Homo sapiens: one gene and its partners. The protein of the gene in region 3 purifies or fractionates together with the protein of the main gene of each other region. This does not show direct contact. Each region holds a gene or a part of one and is shown on either strand. Other genes may lie near its edges. The genes, in order: UNC5B, CSNK1G2 and LRRIQ1.

Region 1 (3,655 bases), on a different chromosome or scaffold from region 3:
CCCCCAACCAACTGCCTCCAGAGGCTTCAGCCCCATCTTGGTTCCTGCACAGAGATCTCAGGCCAAGAGAGAGAGAGCGGGGGTGGAGAAGGAACTCTGGGCCCTCTAACAACAGAGTACATGGATTTTCTAAGGCTGGTCATGGTCTGGGGGTTGGGGAAGAGGAGGAGGAGAGGCAACTCTGGCTGTGAACTGGGAGGAAGCAGAGGCCAAACATCCCCATCAGGAGGCTGCCCCAGGCCTCCCTGCACCTGCCTCCTGCCAGTCCCTGCCAGCCCGCTGTCCCAGGAGGCTCAGCAGTCCCCGTCGGTGGCCACAGCCACCAGCATCTCACTCTTGCCCATCTCCTCCAAGGCACTCGCCAGGCTGTTGAGGTCCCCATCGTCCTGCTGCAGAGCTTCCCAGAGGTCCAGGATCACACCCGTGGGGCTCGCTTTGGTGGCAAAGTAATTCAGGTACCTGGCAGAGGGAAGGAGGGCACTGAGGTTCCCAAGCACTTAGCCCCTCCCCGGAGCCTGGAGGTGAAGGGGCACAAGGGGAAGTGGGAAGGCTGTGAGCTTTGGTGTCCCACTGTCCTGGGTCTGAATTGCAGCTACTGTGCTGCAGTCTGTGTGGCTCTCGGCAATTCAGAACCTATGGCTCAGAATCTCAGTCTCCTTGTCTCTAAAATGGGAACAATGCCAGTTACCGCTCAGCAAGATCCAAGATCATATAAAGTAAGGGTCTAGCGTTGTCTCTAGCATGTAACCATCTTGTTCATCATCATCATTATTATCATTGAAAGACACTGGCCCCAAGAGAGAATGACCACGTCTAGCATGTGGTCATTCCTCCCACCCGTGTTCCCTCCTGCTCCCATGAACTCCCCTGATAGGAGGAATAAAGCCTTAGCCATCTTTGTAAGTCCTATTCATTTCTAGTAAAATGTCTTATCTAAAGCATATTTTATTTATTTATTTTTTGAGACTCAATGCAGGTTTATTACACATCTTTCAATAAGTATAATATTTATTATCATTGGCCTTATATTTATCCAGCACTTATCCAGCATTTGAGGTTCTCCAAAGGAGTTTTGACACCAAAGTGTATCTTGGTCAGTCAGCAAGCATCTCGCAGCACATTCTCTGTCCTAGATACCAGGTGCTGACAATGATGGCACCAAGCTGATGCCCTGGCTTTGAGTCTCCTGCTGTTCGGTGAGATGGGCAGGTGGAGCATTATCCCCACACAATGGGAAAAGAGCAGGGTCTGAGAGTCTGCCTGGCTCAAGGACCAGTGCTCTGAGCATGATGCTCCTCAAGGGAGCAGTATTCTTGAACTTTGCATATCCAATCCTGAGTTGCTGATTTGCCACAAATGGTGGCAAAAGGGCAGCTGGTCTGGGAGATGGTCGTGGCTGTCAGGCTGCCTGCCCTGCCTGCCCCTGTGAGACCTTGAGGACGAAGGCAGATGGGGATGGGCTGTGGTTTGGGATACTCACCGGTCCATAGAGAGCTTCTGTGCTAACATCCGCCAGTCATTGCCCCGTGAGTTGGGGGCATCTAGGCTGTTGCATATCTTCTGGCGGATGGACAGTGGGATCTTGAAGGCATAAGGTCCCAGCTGGGTGGTGACAGTGCTGCCAGGGGCAGAGCAGAGAGTGTCCAGGGAGCCAGCAGGTGTCTGCAAGGGTGGGGGCCAAGAGTGAGAGGGGCACAGTGCTGGGCATCTGCCCTCCAGCCTCCCTCCCCTTGGACTGTGAGCTCATTGAGCCTTGAGTCACTCCCACCTCCTCTGGACAGACTCCCACTGTTCAGGCAGGGGCTTCTCCCTTGAAGGGTCGGTTCCCAAGGGCAAGGCCTGCATGGCCACCCTTCAGGCCTCAGGGGGTGCACCATGCTTACCTAAGGCCCCAGGCAAATGCAGATGCAGCCTCATGGTTAGGAAGCCCCAAGGAGGCCCAGCCACAGTCTAATCCACATGCACCCTCTTGTACAGGTGGAAAGTGAAGTCTAGAAAAGGGGAGTGGCTTGCTCATGGCCACATGCCAAGTTAGTGGCAGACCTGGGTCCAGACCTGTATCCAGTGCTCTTTACAATGCCCCAAGAGGAGGATCTAGTGTTGTCACCCTGGGTGGCCTGGGTTTTTAAATCTCAATCCGGATTTTTAACGGTTGAGAACCACAGGCCTGGTCCTTGCATCAACCTGGGTTCGAATCCAGTCTTGCCACTGGTGTACTGTGTGCAAATCCTTGCCCTTCCTAAAACCTACTTTCTCACCTCCCAGGTGGGGATGATATCTGTCATGCATCTCCCGGTGCTTGTGAGATCATGTAAGTTTTTTGGTATATGCCAAGCATGTGAATGGCACTCAATCAATAAATGACACTTGTTAGAAAAACATGACCAGATACCCGCTCAGACTTGGGAGGTGAGAGGGAACTACAGGGTTCTGTGTGCTGCAGCCCAGCCCCAAACCCTAGAGGTATCCTCTGGCCCTCACCTCCACCAGCGTGGTGTGCAGCTGGAATATCTGGCGGCCCTTCCCTCACCTATGCCACAGTGCTGTGCAGCCGGAATATCTGGCCGCCCTTCCCTCACCTCCACCAGAGTGGTGTGCAGCCGGAATATCTGGCCGCCCTTCCCTCACCTCCGCCAGCGTGGTGTGCAGCTGGAATATCTGCCCCACCCTTCCCTCACCTCCGCCAGCGTGGTGTGCAGCTGGAATATCTGCCCCACCCTTCCCTCACCTCCGCCAGCGTGGTGTGCAGCTGGAATATCTGCCCCACCCTTCCCTCACCTCCGCCAGTGTGGTGTGCAGCTGGAATATGTGGCCCCGACTTCCCTCACCTCTGCCAGAGTGGTATGCAGCTGGAATATCTGGCCCTCCCCTTCCACTTGCCGCACGCAGATCTTGCAGGTGAGCTCTGTGGAGGCCAAGCTGTGCCTCTCCAGGGTGAAAGTGCAGTGGAGGGCCTTCTGGCTGCCACTCCAAATGTGATAGAAGGGGATCTCCTGCAGGAGGAGGGGGTCAGGACCAGGCAGGCAAGGCCAGCCTGCCCTGTCCTCATAGAAATGGAGGCTCAGGGAGGGTTGGGAGCTTTGGGGGGCAGTTCAGGCCTCTCCACCCAGATAGGGAGGGGTCAAGTGCCCTAAGCTAGCCAGCTGAGTTGGTGTCAGGCCCTCAGTTCCAGAAGGGAGCTGAGGGTGGGTAGGTGGGGGAGGGAAAGGCACAGGTGTGTGTGTGTCAGGGGCTAGGGGGCCTTGTGGTCTCAGGCGCTGCTGGGTGGGCAGCGGGCTGTGGCTGTCAGAGATGAGATGGGCAGTCTGCCAGGAGGGCATGCCCTGAAGGGTGAGGAGCCTCTGTGAGGATGAAGGGCATAGTCGTCTGTGCGTGTGAGGGTGTGACAGGGCAGAAGTGTGCATGTGGCTGCCCATTGCCCTGAATTTGGGGACGTGCCTGGGGATGGCTGAAAGCCTAGAGACTGGGGTGGGAGGAGACAGAGACAGTGAGAGATCCAGGGAGGGGTAAGGCCACAGGACAGAGCTAGGAGGCAGGGCCCGGGAGGGAGCTGGGCTTCCCGGGCAGCCCTTAAGTGGTGCCCCTCCCCATCCATCAGCCCAGCCCTCACCTGGTATTTGGCCAGCAGCTTGCTCCTCCAATGGGCATGGGGGAG
Region 2 (2,822 bases), on a different chromosome or scaffold from region 3:
CGCTACATGAGCATCAACACGCACCTGGGCAAGGGTGAGCTGCGCGCGCGCGGCGGGGGGCGGGCGCCCGGACCCCGCTGAGGCTGCGCCCCTGTCCCCGCAGAGCAGAGCCGCCGCGACGACCTGGAGGCGCTGGGCCACATGTTCATGTACTTCCTGCGCGGCAGCCTCCCCTGGCAGGGGCTCAAGGTGGGCGAGGAGGCCGGGCAGGCGGGCGGGGACGCAGGGCGGGAGCAAGGCTGACCACAGACCCCCGCAGGCCGACACGCTCAAGGAGCGGTACCAGAAGATCGGGGACACCAAACGCGCCACGCCCATCGAGGTGCTCTGCGAGAACTTCCCAGGTAAGGGGTCCCTGCGCCCCCGCCCTGTGCCCCCCACCCCCCACCCCCCACCCCCACCCCCGCCGAGGCCCCGCTGGCGCTCTCTCTGCAGAGGAGATGGCCACGTACCTGCGCTATGTGCGGCGCCTGGACTTCTTCGAGAAGCCCGACTATGACTACCTGCGGAAGCTCTTCACCGACCTCTTCGACCGCAGTGGCTTCGTGTTCGACTATGAGTACGACTGGGCCGGGAAGCCCCTGGTAGGTGGGGGGGTGCCGGTATGTGGGAGCGGGGGACCGGGAAACTGCCCTGAGGGAGATGGGAACCGGCGCTGCAGCCCATCCTGACCCCTGCTCCCTCACCCACAGCCGACCCCCATCGGCACCGTCCACACCGACCTGCCCTCCCAGCCTCAGCTCCGGGACAAAACCCAGCCGCACAGCAAAAACCAGGTGAGGCCCGGGCGGGACCGACCGCCCCAGGGAGGGGCATGGGCGGCCAGCGTGACCCCCTACTGCCCCCACCAGGCGTTGAACTCCACCAACGGGGAGCTGAATGCGGACGACCCCACGGCCGGCCACTCCAACGCCCCGATCACAGCGCCTGCAGAGGTGGAGGTGGCCGATGAAACCAAGTAAGGCTCTGGGGCGGTGCCTTCGGGGAGGTGGGGGTGCCCTGGGTCCCCATGGGGGTGGGAGGGCCTGAGGCCTGGGCTGCCCCCGCCCTGCACCCCGGTCCTCCTACCTGAGCCACTGCCCTCCTCAGATGCTGCTGTTTCTTCAAGAGGAGAAAGAGAAAATCGCTGCAGCGACACAAGTGACCCTGGGCGCGTGCAGCCCCCTGAATCTTCTCCGTGCAGCCCCTTGGGGCGCGACCTTGTGCGAGGCCCTCGGGGCCCACCCACAGCGGCCCAGGGCCAGACCCTGGCTGGAAGCCAGAACGCAGACTGCAGGGGCCGCGCCTGGCTCAGGCGGCCCCACCCCCGGGACGTGGGGTCACTTCCTTCATGTAAGACTTTGGCCGAAATTTCTACACCTGTGTCTAGTCCTCCCCTCCAAGAGCATTAACTATTTAAAACAAGGAAAAGAGGAAAAAAAAAACAGAGGCCCGCCCTACCCCACTCCTGCCCCTCCGTTTCTTTGCTGAAGTGAGTAGTGTGATCCTGGAGGCCCCCCGGCCTGGCCCCGCCCCGCCAGCCGCCCCCGTTAGCGTCATAAAGTCCAGCTTGTCTCCCTCGATCCAAAGGCCGTTTTCTCGAGGGGAGGGCAGGCCCGGCCTGGAGGGGTGCTGTGGAGCTGTCTTGCCCAGGCCCTCCTGGGAGGGGGACAGGCATTGTTGCCAGGGGTGAGGCCGTGCCCCAGGCCTCCCCGAAACCAAAGGGGAAGGCAGGGGTGGGGCCGTGGCTGAAGCCGGCTCCCCAACCAAAATGCTGCACCAAAGCTCGGGCGCCGCGGGCACGGCTGCTGCAGTCTCTTCCCAGCCTGGCCCTGGCAAGGGGCGGGTGGGCGCTGCCAGGCGGGTGCTTCTCGACGCACTTGCTCCCGGAGGCTGCGCCCCGGCGCCTGGAACCCGAGGTGGGAGGACCGGTTGGTGTCACCCTGCTCGGCCCTCAGCCCTGCCGCGTGGGGCGCGTGGGCACGGAGCTTCCTGCCTCTCTGCTCCGACACCCGGCAAGCAGCCGGAGACAAAACGCCTTAAAGCCCCCGGCCCAGCCCTGCAGGTATATTGCAGGGGCCTGGGGGCGGCCCTGGACTGGCGGGCGGTTCCCCAGTGGGGTGCCCTGGAGGCTGCCGGGCAGAGTGGAGCAGCTTGGGGCCGTGCCCAGGGCGGTGGCTGTGAGTCTAGTTTTTGCTTTACCAAGTGTACAGAAATGGCATTTACGTTTCTCTGATGCTCCCTTGAAGCCATAGAATTTAGGGGCTTTTTTAAAAAAATAAAAGAAAAATGAAACCAAACCCAAGTGTAGAGGGATTTGTCTGGGCTTTCCACGAAGCTTGACCTGGAACGGGCGTTGCTTCCATCCCCATCCTGCCTGTCCGGGACGAGTCCGGAGCGGCTGGCGGCCTCCGGTAACAGAAACCGACTGATGAGGCGGAAGGTAAGGAAGATGGAAGCAGAGGGCAGAGCTGGGCTCTGTCTGGGGAGAGGGCAGGAGACGAGTGTTCACGTACCATGGAAAGGGGAAGTCACACACATGCGACTTGGCCCCGGGGGTCCCGTTCCCCGACACTACACAAATATACCTGAAAGCCTCAGCGACGGGGCCCAGGCAGGATGGTCCTGGCTGCTCTGACGGCGGAAGGCCTCCTTGACTCCCTCTGTTCACGCAGCAGGGCAGAAAACATCTCCACGGGGGCCACGACACTGTGAAGGGAATCAGCAGTAGCTCCCAGAAGAACAGCGGAAACTGCAGGCAGGTGAAGACCTTGGCAGCACTAGCCCCGGCTCCGCCCCGTGCCTTCTCCCCAGACAACACCCCATACCCGGCAGCAAGGGTG
Region 3 (3,655 bases):
TAAAAAATAGTTAAAACATTTAAAAATAAAAAATAAAAATATATTCATTACCCATAATTATTGCTCTTTAGTCTTCTCTTTTGAGATATTACTGCATATAACCCAATGGTCTAGTATTTTCAACTTTATAACTTTTTTGATGAAACGGGCTATTAAGCAGCCCTCGAAAACAATCCATTTGCCTTCTCTTTGCTTGCTTGAGACCCACATTTGACAAGTGGTATTAGAAGCCCTGGGCCATGTTCTTTACATACAGCATTTTAAAACTCAGTGATCCTATATAATAGATATTGCTGTTCCAGTTTGTGAAAGACAAAACTGAGGCTCATACAGGTCAAGCATTTGCATAAGGTGTCACAGCCATAAGTGGCAGAAATAAAATTAGAAACAGTCTTAACATAGAACTTAGTAGTCTAATAAGCTACACTTCAGTAATTTTACATTCATTTCCTCTTCAGTCAATATACTTTATCTAAACTGTGAAACTGGTAGTAATGAGGAGATAAGATTAACATTCAATTGCAGTTCTTTTTTTTAATTATACTTTAGGTTACATGTATACATGGGATACATGTGCAGAACATGCGGTTTTGTTATATAGGTATACACGTGCCACGTGCCATGGTGGTTTGCTGCACCCATCAACCCGTCCTCTACATTAAATATTTCGACTGGAATTCTTTATTCATCAATTGATTCATCCCCCCACTCATCCATCCTATAATCAGGTAATGAAAGTCATTACAGATAGTTCCTGACAAGAGATAGTTTAGCGTAGAATTTTTTTTAAATTTTATGATGGTGTGAGATCAATAGACATTTAGTTGAAACCATACTTCAAATTTTGAATTTTGATCTTTTCCCAAGCTAGCAATATAAAGTATGATCATTTCTCACAATGTCAGGCAACGGCAGGGAGCTGCATCTCCCAGTCAGTCACATGATCATGAGGGTAAACAACAAATACTCTACAGTGTACCACGTTGCCAGATGATTTTGCCCAGTTGTAAGCTATGTAGGTTTATCTGGATGTAACTTCATTGTAACTTGAGGAGTATCTTTATTTGCCTGGCAATGTGTAAAGAAGTATGAACAACACGAAGATCCGATTTATGTCTTGAAGTCTCAAAGTAAGAGATTAATGTAAGCAAAATGAATGCATTACTGGGAGACAATAAACTTTTCTAAGTTGATCTCCAGAAGGACATCCCAAGGATGGCAGTGAGTGATCAGGATAAGGATAAAGATCTGAAGCTAAAAGATCAGAAAGTCAAAAAGAAACTGAGCCATGGATCAGTAGTAACAGTGGTGAATAAAGACACCATGGTAAGCCATCTACCAAACAGAATCTTTACAGGAGTTGTCTGGTAACAAAAGATGATATTTTCTTAACATTTTAGCATCTATATGGCACATTCACATGTATTTTTCATCTTTATACTGCCTATTTGATGCTTCAAAGCTAAATTAAAAGCTTGAGATAGTTGCTTTAAGAAGGGATGAGAGGATTATGGTGCCCTTTAGAACACTGCTACTCAGATTAGTCCACTCACCAGCACCAACATCATCATTTAGAATCATTGCAAGAATGGAGAATGGGTGGATCACCAGACCTATTGAATCAGAATCCACATTTCTACAAAGCTTCAGGTATTCTATAGATTTTAATAGTTTGCCAGGCCTTGCTCTAAGAAGTAAAAGAAAGAGTTAATTATCATTTTATGTAAATTGACAAACGTTCGAAAGAAGGAACAGAGAGTCAGCTGGAGAAGAAATGCCAAGGAGAAAGAGGCTCACACATCTTAACTTCCTTCTCATTGGACAGAACAGAGACCTACAAAGCAAGGGAGGAACACTACTGTTTCTGTAACTTCATTTTCACTTTTGAAGCAAGTACACTGTAGGCATGAAGCCATCACTCTTGCCTAGCTTTAACAGATACTCATGAGGAAAACTAAATAATTGCTAATGTTATCATATTGGAAGGCCTGCAGCAATATGTTAGAGAAAGAAAAGTGCTAAAACATGATTCCAGAGATAACATGCGCAAGGAAAAAATTGGAGAAGAGCAGATGAGAGATTCTATATGTAGCTCTGCAGACCTGACAGATGTGGCAAATACATTACCCAGGAAATAAAAGACACTTAAAAGTGTATGTCCCAGTTCTCATCTCTTATATTGCTATTTCATATACCAGAAATATCTTCAAAATCCCACTATTTTATTATTCTCTCACAGGATACTCTGAAGCCTTATTTACAGCAATTCTCAAGATCCATAATAACGTATTTATGTGTGTTTAAGCTCCGTAAAAGACTGGGTTTTCTTTGTTTATTAGTCAACCAATAAATATTGATCATCTTATTGGATAGATGAATATTTGCTGAGTGAATAAACAAAATAATGTTTATCTATTAATATGATTGTTCTTTCTCCTAGGCATCTGTCTAGCAAGAAAGTCTATCAAGAAACTAAATAAACTTTATTGAATACTTTTGACTTTCAGGCCTTAGCTAAATATATGTATTTTAATCATAAGTGCTTTCTAGTGTTACACTGTTTAAAATATTATTTTCTCTTTTTCTATACGTTTATTAGTTTCTGTGTCTTAATTTTGGTTGAAACTATGTTCTCCATAACCATATAAAATTAGTAACATTTGATGACAACTATTTTACATTTCAGACATATATGCACCACCTTTAAATAGCACACGCTAAATAATTGTTGCTAGATGGGAATTCTAGGGTCTTCAGGGTCTTCTATCATGCAAGCCCTTCTTTCACAACAGTGGTCATGGACATAAAATCCACTTTATTCCAAAAGCAGCCACTAGGTGGTGTGGTGGCTCAAGTCTAAAGCAAACTTCTGTTTACTTAGGAGTTTCCTACTATAATTCTAACCCTAACTTTCTATATGCTTCCATTCTTAGAGGTTTAAATAATGACTGGAGGGCCCTTGAACACAGGCTTCAAGATATTAAAAAATATAAATCAAAGCTTTTTATAGAGTGTCACTTAGGGAAGATGCCTCGAACAATTTGTTGAGATATATCCCCTCCCAAATGGGGTAATATTTCATTCATAACTTTATTAAACAAGAGACAATTCTTGTATACAAAATATTTCTTTTTCTAAGATCTGAAAAGTTATACTTTAAAGAGCTAATTGTAATTAAATGTGAAAAATTATTATAAAATTAGAAATACCTGCTGTAAAGTATCCCAAGGGCCACATCGAAGAATTTCCAGTTTATCCAAAGCGGGTGTCATGTTGGCTGGGCATTTCACAGGTCTCTTTCTTCTAACAATTTTCTTTTGTTGATTTTGCTTGAAAATTTCAAGCCAAGGTTTAAATGATTTTATCCAGGCTAGTCTCCTTTCTTCAATAGAATATAGAAGGGTTGACTCTGATACACAGCAGGTCATGCTATCAGGTTCAGGTGCATTTTCATGGCATTTTTCTGAAATATTTCTAATCTCAGATTTAAGAGAGTTGACTTCTTTAGATACCATGGAGCTTTCTGCATTATAGTTACTCAAGCCCTCACAAGGAGCATGTCTACCTAACACATAATCTTGGTCATTTCTTTTGCCTTCTATATTTATCATGGTATCAGTTGTGTTAAAAATCACAATGCCACTATTCCAAGCAT

The links.
Region 1: the proteins of LRRIQ1 (region 3) and UNC5B purify together in Homo sapiens (affinity purification with mass spectrometry; 2 studies listed by BioGRID and IntAct, with this or other methods). This does not show direct contact.
Region 2: the proteins of LRRIQ1 (region 3) and CSNK1G2 purify together in Homo sapiens (affinity purification with mass spectrometry; 2 studies listed by BioGRID and IntAct, with this or other methods). This does not show direct contact.

What each region holds. Positions count from the first base shown.
Region 1 is NC_000010.11:71,295,916-71,299,570, reverse strand, and holds part of UNC5B (netrin receptor UNC5B isoform 1 precursor), read right to left. Parts: coding exon 3,611-3,655; intron 2,994-3,610; coding exon 2,829-2,993; intron 1,663-2,828; coding exon 1,481-1,662; intron 460-1,480; coding exon 294-459; 3' UTR 1-293. UniProt on the Homo sapiens protein: Receptor for netrin required for axon guidance. Mediates axon repulsion of neuronal growth cones in the developing nervous system upon ligand binding.
Region 2 is NC_000019.10:1,979,060-1,981,881, forward strand, and holds the end of CSNK1G2 (casein kinase I), read left to right. Parts: coding exon 1-34; intron 35-103; coding exon 104-189; intron 190-259; coding exon 260-344; intron 345-435; coding exon 436-584; intron 585-692; coding exon 693-776; coding exon of another isoform or gene 777-851; coding exon 852-958; intron 959-1,089; coding exon 1,090-1,144; 3' UTR 1,145-2,279; downstream 2,280-2,822. UniProt on the Homo sapiens protein: Serine/threonine-protein kinase. Casein kinases are operationally defined by their preferential utilization of acidic proteins such as caseins as substrates. It can phosphorylate a large number of proteins. Participates in Wnt signaling.
Region 3 is NC_000012.12:85,056,739-85,060,393, reverse strand, and holds part of LRRIQ1 (leucine-rich repeat- and IQ domain-containing protein 1), read right to left. Parts: coding exon 3,210-3,655; intron 1-3,209.